Linked DNA regions of Homo sapiens: regions 2 and 3 are each linked to region 1. The links come from fine-mapping of genetic effects on gene expression. A gene starts in region 1. Each other region holds a variant in brackets. All regions are shown on one strand. Distances are from middle to middle. Region 1 holds the start of CNNM4 (cyclin and CBS domain divalent metal cation transport mediator 4). Region 2 overlaps LMAN2L (lectin, mannose binding 2 like). Region 3 overlaps LMAN2L (lectin, mannose binding 2 like).

Region 1 (2,761 bases):
ACCCTCAATCCCAGCTAACAGGGCTTTCTTGAGTCAGGGCCTCTCTGCTACCACACCTCCTCCCACAACATTGTGTGATCCTTTCTGTTTAGGCTCCTTCCGTTTGGTACTGATTGCTGCTTTTATTAGCAAACATTACACCAAAATGAAAATAAATACAAGTGTCAGTGCGGGAAGGGAGTAAAGTGGGTTCTGTGTCTTCAGTACTGGCAAAAGATTTGCTGTGAGACCTGGTGGTCAACCCAGTACCTGATCTTCTCTGTGCACCTGTGCAATTATTGTAAGGATGTTTATCTGTCTGTCTTCTTCCCCCTCACAGGGCGGGCAGCTGTGGTCTTCCTTATACACCCTACTGACACAGGGCTAGGGCCATTCAGGAAGCAGTCATTTCAGGGATAGGCCCACTGCCGCGCCTGCCTGCTCATGTCCACAAGCAGCTGCCCAGCTGATCAATCACCACAATTTGGGGTTAGGAGTTTGGTCCTGGAAGGCAGGTAGCAACAACTACTACCTAGCCAAAGAATATTCTAAAGAGCTGTCCTGTCATGTTCAATGTCTAGGTCCACAATCCCGCAAGCTTAGCGAAGTAATGCTCTGTCATTCTTACCCCCATTTACAGATGGAGAAATGGGCTGGGAGATGACAGTATGGAGGCACCAGGATTTTTGTCTCGGCTCAATTTCTGCATCTCTAAATGGAAATAATTCTACTAACTCTGAGGGTTGTTGGGGGGATTTAATGAATATATGTGTTTACTTGTTTATCTCCTGTTTTCTGTTCTAGACTGTAAACCCCAATGGGCAGCGACTTTGGCTTGTTCACTGCTCTATTGTCAGAGCCTAGAACAAGTGCCTGGTACAAAGTAGGTGTTCAATAAATATCTATGCCTAAATGGAAGAGACAGGAGAGAAGTCTAGGCCAGAGCCTGCCCCTTCTATAACCTTAGTTCCCCAGATTTGCCTTCCACATCAGGCAGCCACTGGTTGATGGAAGCATCGTCGGGCTGGGGCTGGGGCTGGGGTAACCTACTTCTGGCCTTAGGACAAGGTCGGCAAAAATCTCAGCAGTGAGGAGGCCAGAAAAGTCTCCAAGGGGCAGGCTGCAATGCCAGCCTAAGCCCTCAGGTTTCCTTTTTCTTTTTCTACATCAGGAAAAGCACTTTTCTCGCCCTGCCTGCAGAGCGGGCCACCCCTAGCTGCAGGTGAGGGACGGGAGAGGAGCCTCCCACGTGCGGCCGTGCGAGGCCGAGGAACAGGAACGGCGTAGCTAGGAGACCAGGTCCCGGAGAAGGAGAGCTGGCCCCACTGGCAGAGAAAGGCGGGGAAGGGCGCGGAGGCGGAGCACTGGGCGGGTACCCGCTGGCGGCTCTCGCGCGGCGGCGCTGCTCCACCTTAAGCGACTGTACCCCCTTAAGGGCGGGCGCTCAAGCAGCGAGCCCCGGGGGCGGGGCCTCCAATGCAAATGAGGGGCGTGGGCAGGCGGGGCGGGGCGGGCGGGGCGCTGACCTGACGTCAGGCTCGCGGCCCGGGCAGTTGGCTCGGCGGCAGCGGAGCGGCCGGAGCTGCGGTGCGGACCGGGGCCGCGCGGCGTGGCGCGGGGAGCGGCGGCGGCGGCAGAGCCAGAGCAACATGGCGCCGGTGGGCGGGGGCGGGCGCCCGGTCGGCGGACCGGCCCGCGGGCGCCTCCTCCTGGCGGCGCCGGTGCTGCTGGTGCTGCTGTGGGCGCTGGGGGCCCGGGGCCAGGGCAGCCCCCAGCAGGGCACGATCGTGGGCATGAGGCTGGCGAGCTGCAACAAGTCGTGTGGGACGAACCCGGATGGCATCATCTTCGTGTCCGAGGGCAGCACCGTGAACCTGAGGCTGTACGGCTACAGCCTGGGCAACATCTCCAGCAACCTGATCTCCTTCACCGAGGTGGACGATGCCGAGACCCTCCACAAGTCCACCAGCTGCCTCGAGCTCACCAAGGACCTGGTCGTCCAGCAGCTGGTCAACGTGAGCCGCGGGAACACGTCCGGCGTGCTGGTGGTGCTCACCAAGTTCCTCCGGAGGAGCGAGAGCATGAAGCTGTATGCACTGTGCACCCGGGCCCAGCCCGACGGGCCCTGGCTGAAGTGGACGGACAAGGACTCACTGCTCTTCATGGTGGAGGAGCCTGGGAGGTTCCTGCCTCTCTGGCTGCACATTCTCCTAATTACGGTGCTGCTGGTGCTGTCGGGCATATTTTCTGGCCTCAACCTCGGGCTTATGGCCCTGGACCCCATGGAGCTGCGCATCGTGCAGAACTGTGGCACCGAGAAGGAGAGGCGCTATGCCCGCAAGATTGAGCCCATCCGGCGCAAGGGCAACTACCTTCTCTGCTCGTTGCTCCTAGGGAACGTGCTGGTCAACACCTCCCTCACAATCCTTCTAGACAACCTCATCGGGTCCGGCCTCATGGCGGTGGCCTCCTCCACCATTGGCATTGTCATCTTTGGGGAGATCCTACCTCAGGCCCTGTGCTCCCGACATGGGCTGGCTGTGGGTGCCAACACCATCCTTCTCACCAAATTCTTTATGCTACTCACCTTCCCCCTCAGTTTTCCCATTAGCAAGCTCCTGGACTTTTTTCTGGGCCAGGAGATTCGCACTGTTTACAACCGGGAGAAGCTGATGGAGATGTTGAAGGTGACGGAGCCCTATAATGACCTCGTGAAAGAGGAGCTCAATATGATCCAGGGTGCCCTGGAACTACGGACCAAAACTGTAGAGGATATCATGAC
Region 2 (2,761 bases), 40 kb before region 1:
GGCTGGTCTCGAACTCCTGACCTCAAGTGCTGGGATTATAGGCATTGGCCACTGCACCTGGCCAAAAAAAGTAAAAATTAACCTGGCATGATGGCCACCTGTAGTCCCAGTTATTCAGAAGGCTGAGGCAGGAAGACTGCTTAAGCCTAGGAGTTCGAGGCTGCAGTGAGCTATCACTGTGCCACTGCACTCCATCCTGGGCGATAGAATGCAAGACTCAGTCTCAAAAGAAAAAAAAAAGACTTGAGGAAATGTTTTTTTAACTGGATGGCATGGTATTGTTAAATTTTCTTCCAGTTCAAAGGAGGAAAAAACAATCATCACATCAAAAAAAAGTATGAGGAGTATCTCAAAGTATGGGGAATACCTCAAAAACAACTCCCAAGCTCTTCTCCCCACTCTCTAGCTATTTCTGCCTCCCCAGGGGTGAGGCCCAAACATCTCACAGAAAAGAATGAAGGCCAAGACCGCAACGGTTACACTCTGTGCTCTCATTCCAGGAAGGCCTCTTCTCATTCATTACGCTCTGATTTCAACGGAAGCACATTGTAGCTCCAAGATTGCTACTGACTTCCCTGCAACTTTTCACCAACATCTGGGTAGGTTTGTGTGAGAAAGTGATGATCATCAGCTGATGACTTGATAGTGCAAGATAATCAGGTTATCTTTACCTTTTTTTTTTTTTTGATTTTTTGTAGAGATGAGGACTTGCTATGTTGCCTAGGCTGGTTTCAAACTCCTGGACTCAAGCTATCTTCCTGCCTTGGCTTCCCAAAGTGCTGGGATTATAGGCACGAGCTACTGTGCCTGCCCACTGGTGATCTTTTAATCAACATTAAAAAATAACTACAATACAGCCAGGCGCGGTGACTCACGCCTGTAATCCCAGTGCTTTGGGAGGCTGAGGCGGGCAAATCACAAGGTCAGGAGTTCGAGACCAGCCTGGGCAACATGGTGAAACCTCGTCTCTACTAAAAATACAAAAATTAGCCAGGCGTGGTGGCAGGCACCTGTAATCCCAGCTACTCGGAATGCTGAGGCAGGAGAATCACTTGAACCTGGGAGATGGACGTTGCAGTGAGCCAAGATCACGCCACTGCACTCCAACCTGGGCGACAGGGTGAGACTCAGTCTCAAAAAAAATAAATAAAATAAATAACTACAACACTGAGATATAATTCACAGTCCACACAATTCACTTAAAGTATATAATTCAATGGCATTTAGTATATTCAGAGTTAAGATTATGATTACCACAACCAATTTTAAAACATTTTCATCACCC[C/A]AAAAAAAAATCTCATGCCCACTAGTAGTCACTCTCCTCATCTCCACCCCACATTACCCCAGCCCTAGACAACCACTAATCTACTTTCTGTCTCTACAGATTTGCCTATTCTGGACATTTCATATGCATGGGATCATACAATGTGTGGGTCTTTTGTGACTGGCTTCTTCCACTTAGCATAGTGTTTTCATGGGTCATCCATGTTGGAGCACATATCGATACTTAATTTCTTTCAGTCTTTTTTTTTTTTTTTTTTTTTTTTGAGACAGGGTCTTGCTATGTCACCCAGGCTGGAGTGCAGTGGTGTGATCAAGGCTCATTGCAACCTCGAGGTCCTGGGCTCAAGTGATCCACTCACCTTGGTCTCCTAAAGTGCTAGAATTACAAGTGTAAGCCACTGTGCCTGGCAATTACTCCTACTTTGTTTTTTTTTTGAGACAGTCTTGCTCCATCGCCCAGGCTACAGTGCAGTGGCAATCATAGCTCACTACAGCCTTGACCTCCTGGACTCAAGCAATCCTCCTGCCTCAGCCTGCAAAGTAGCTGGGACCAGCTAATTTTTTTTGTTTTTTGTAAAGATGGGGTCTCCCTATGTTGCCCAAGCTGATCTAAAACTCCTAGACTCAAGCAATCCTTCCACCTTGGCCTCCCAAAGTGTTGGGATTATAGGCACGAGCCACCACACCCAGTGATACTTATTTTCATTGCTGATATTTCCATTATAACAATATATCACATTTTGTTTATCCTCTAATCCAGTAGTCCTCAACCTTTTTGGCACCAGGGACTGGTTTCCTGGAAGACAATTTTTCCATGAACCGGGGAGTTGGAGGGGGGGTGGTTTCGGGATGATTCAAGCACATTACATTTATTGTGTACTTTCTTTCTTTTTTTTTTGAGACGGAGTCTCACTCTGTTGCCCAGGCTGGAATCCAGTGGCGCGATCTTGGCTCACTGCAAGCTCCGCCTGCCAGGTTCACGCCATTCTCCTGCCTCAGCCTCCCGAGTAGCTGGGACCATAGGTGGCCGCCACCACGCCCGGCTAATTTTTTTGTATTTTTAGTAGAGACGGGGTTTCATCGTGTTAGCCAGAATGGCCTCAATCTCCTGACCTCGTGATCCGCCCACCTTGGCCTCCCAAAGTGTTGGGATTACAGGCGTGAGCCACCGCACCCGGCCTGTGTACTTTATTTCTATTATTATCACGTTATAATATATAATGAAATAATTATACAGCTCACCATGATGTAGAAATCAGCGGGAACCCTAAGCTTGTTTTCCTGCAACTAGATAGTCCCATCTGGGGGTGATGGGAGACAGTGACAGATCATCAGGCATTAAATTCTCCTAAGGAGAAAACTAGATCCCTCGCATGCTCAGTTCATAAGAGGGCTCCTGCTCCTATGAGAATCTAATGCCACCACTGATCTGAGAGGAGGCGGAGCTCAGGCAGTAATGAGAGCAATGGGGAGCAGC
Region 3 (2,761 bases), 24 kb before region 1:
TTAGGGAAGCTTCTGGTTAAAAGTCTACTGTGAAGAAAGAAGTGAAGGAAGAACAGACAGACCAGCTGGGTTCAGCCAAAGGCTCTCCAAATAGACTGTTCTGGGCAACTATTGCTAGATCATTTTCAGTTTTCATTCTTTATTTCTGGGATATTTTCCAACAGTGTTCATATTAGAAGTACACAGTCAAAATGAAAGGGGATTGGGTACTCCTGCATTGAGCAAGGGGCCTGAAATCTCCTACTCTATTGAGCCAGTCTCTGTCTTGTCACTCTGGATTCTTATCTCTCTGCTGTTTCATTACGATTTCAGAGAAACGGCCCAGCGCGGTGGCTCACGCCTGTAATCCCAGCACTTTGGGAGGCTGAGGTGGGCAGATCACAAGGTCAGGAGATCGAGACCATCCTGGCTAACACGGTGAAACCCCGTCTCTACTAAAAAATACAAAAAATTAGCCGGTGTGGTGGTGGGCGCCTGGAGTCCTAGCTACTCAGGAGGCTGAGGCAGGAGAATGGCGTGAACCCAGGAGGCAGAGCTTGCAGTGAGCTGAGATCATGCCACTACACTCCAGCCTGGGCGACAGAGCGAGACTCCATCTCAAAAAAAAAAAAAAAGATTTCAGAGAAAGGCCAGGCACAGTAGTTCACGCCAGTAATCAAAGCATTTTGAGAGGCTTTGGTGGAGGATCATTTGAGCCCAGGAGGTCCAGGCTGCAGTGAGCTGTGATAGTGCCACTGCACTCCAGCCTAGGCGACAGAGTGATGAGACCCTGTTTCAAAAAAATAGCTTTCAGAGAAAGAGTGAAATTCAGTGGGGCAGGAAGCTGCCAGGAGGTAGGTATTATGCCCCTGGGAAGAGGGCAGAGTCACAGAAGTTCCCAGTGAGCCAAGAGGTGTCTGTCACTGATTCCTGGCCTCCTACAGCACAATGCTATACTGTTTTGCTCAGGACCATGTCTAATTGTGGTTCTGAAATTCTGCCACACACTGGATTCACCTACGGAGTTTTAAAAAATCCCAATGGCCAAGCTGCACCCTATTCCAATTAGATCAGAATCTCTGGGGATGAGACCCAGGCATTGATTCCAATGGATAGCCAAATTTGAGAACCACTGCTGAAACAAATGCATCCTATTCAAATAACTCAGAAACAAGCCCATAGTCATGGTGATAGCCAGATAACAGCGAATACAGGTATCAGAAGTCGAAAAAGGGAAGAACTAGAGGCTATACTA[G/C]AACTGCTGCTACAAGTTATGTAGAGACAGACAGCCAGCAAGACAGCAGCAGAGTATCAAGCCTTGAACATAATCATCCGGTAACCCACAAGAGCCCCATCAACAAACCTGTAGAAGTGTAATAACATAACACATATTTCTATAACCATTTTAACTTGCCACAGTCTTTTCATGTCTATTGTCCTATTTTATTCTCACGACAACCCCAGTGGGCAAGTAAAACAGGTATTCTGAAGCTCATTTATCAGATAGAGAAACAGAACTAAGAAGTTAAATAATCTGCCTAGGGCTCACAGGAGGACTGTGACAGAGCTGGACCGAGAATCCCAGTCTTTCAACTGTCCTTTATCTCTGCTACGAAAACACAATGCTCTGTACTCTGTCCAAAAATGAGCTCGGCACTATGATCTAGGTTAAGGGGCCAGTTTGTGCAGATAGCTAATGTAGAAATTTCTCTTGCCCTCCTGAACAGGGAAAAGAAATCGTTCTCTTTTCTGAGATTCGCTTATCTACAACTAATGAGAAAAGCCACGTAAAAAAGTAAGTTCTTAGTTTAAGAGAATTCCAGAGAAAGTATCAAAGGATGCCAGAGTCATGCCCAAAAGTAAACTGGTCGTAAAAGATTTAGAAAGCCCTGGAAACAGAAAAGAAAGCATCATCTTACACTTGTACAAAATCACAGTGCAGCCACACCAGGAATACTGCATTCACTTCTTGTCGCCATACCTCAAGGAAGACAATGCAGCTAGAAAAGGTCCAGAGAAGGACAAATAAAATGACCAACAGCTCAGAGTGGCTTTCACATGAAAATAAAATTTTATATCAGACTCTTCAAATTGAAATAACAAGATGGGGATGCTGGGATAAGGTTTGGGATCAATTTAAGAGTACTCTCAACCAGGACCGGTGGCTCACACCTATAATCCCTGACCTTTGGGAGGCCAAGGCAGGAGGATTGTTTGAGACCAAGAGTTTGAGACCAGCCTGGGCAACATAGCAAGACCCCATCTCTACAAAAAACGTTTTAAAAATTAGCCAGGTGCAGTGGCACATGCCTGTAGTCTCAGCTACTCAGGAGGCTGAGGCAGGAGGAGCCCTTAAGCCCAGGAGTTTGAGGCTGCAGTGAGCTATGATTGTGCCACTGCACTCTGGTCTTCTTATAATCTTCTTACAAAGTGGTTAAGCAGGAGTTAAGTTATTATTAAACCCTAAGAAGTAGTACTATTGGGCCAATCAGGAATTAACGACATTTCAGGAAAAAAAAATGAATTATTTGCTATAATTAAATAGAGAGCATTTTCCTAAATACCTGATTTATTTATTATCAAGGTCAGAATAATCTCAAAAATAAAGATCCTTGATATCCACAGAAGATAGAATACCAGGGGGATAGACAGTAAAATTAAATCAGTATGCCACTGCTGAACTTTTTAGGCCTTTCTGGGTCACCAACACAGGAGGGAGAAAGATTCTTACCACCCGGTTCCACAAGGCACCCTGTTTACTTTGCATATCTGGGGTAAGGCG

The links. PIP is the estimated chance that this variant, and not a neighbour inherited with it, causes the effect. A credible set is the group of variants that fine-mapping cannot tell apart.
Region 2: its variant is the best candidate, but not a certain one, in a credible set for the expression of CNNM4 in whole blood (TOPMed, PIP 0.67).
Region 3: its variant is the best candidate, but not a certain one, in a credible set for the expression of CNNM4 in whole blood (TOPMed, PIP 0.59).

The regions. Positions count from the first base shown.
Region 1 is chr2:96,759,372-96,762,132 of GRCh38, forward strand. It overlaps CNNM4 (cyclin and CBS domain divalent metal cation transport mediator 4), which reads left to right and starts at 1,531. Exons shown (of 7, transcript NM_020184.4): 1 at 1,531-2,761. The coding sequence starts at 1,629. RefSeq lists enhancers at 969-1,018, 1,578-2,167, 2,039-2,288, 2,168-2,756 and silencers at 1,349-1,768, 1,892-2,075.
Region 2 is chr2:96,719,804-96,722,564 of GRCh38, forward strand. All of the region lies in intron 4 of LMAN2L (lectin, mannose binding 2 like), which reads right to left. Among named protein-coding and RNA genes, the nearest start is that of LMAN2L, 19 kb to the right of the region's middle. The variant C/A (reference allele first, on the strand shown) is at 1,286.
Region 3 is chr2:96,735,239-96,737,999 of GRCh38, forward strand. It overlaps LMAN2L (lectin, mannose binding 2 like), which reads right to left. Exons shown (of 8, transcript NM_030805.4): 2 at 2,711-2,761. Among named protein-coding and RNA genes, the nearest start is that of LMAN2L, 3.4 kb to the right of the region's middle. The variant G/C (reference allele first, on the strand shown) is at 1,235.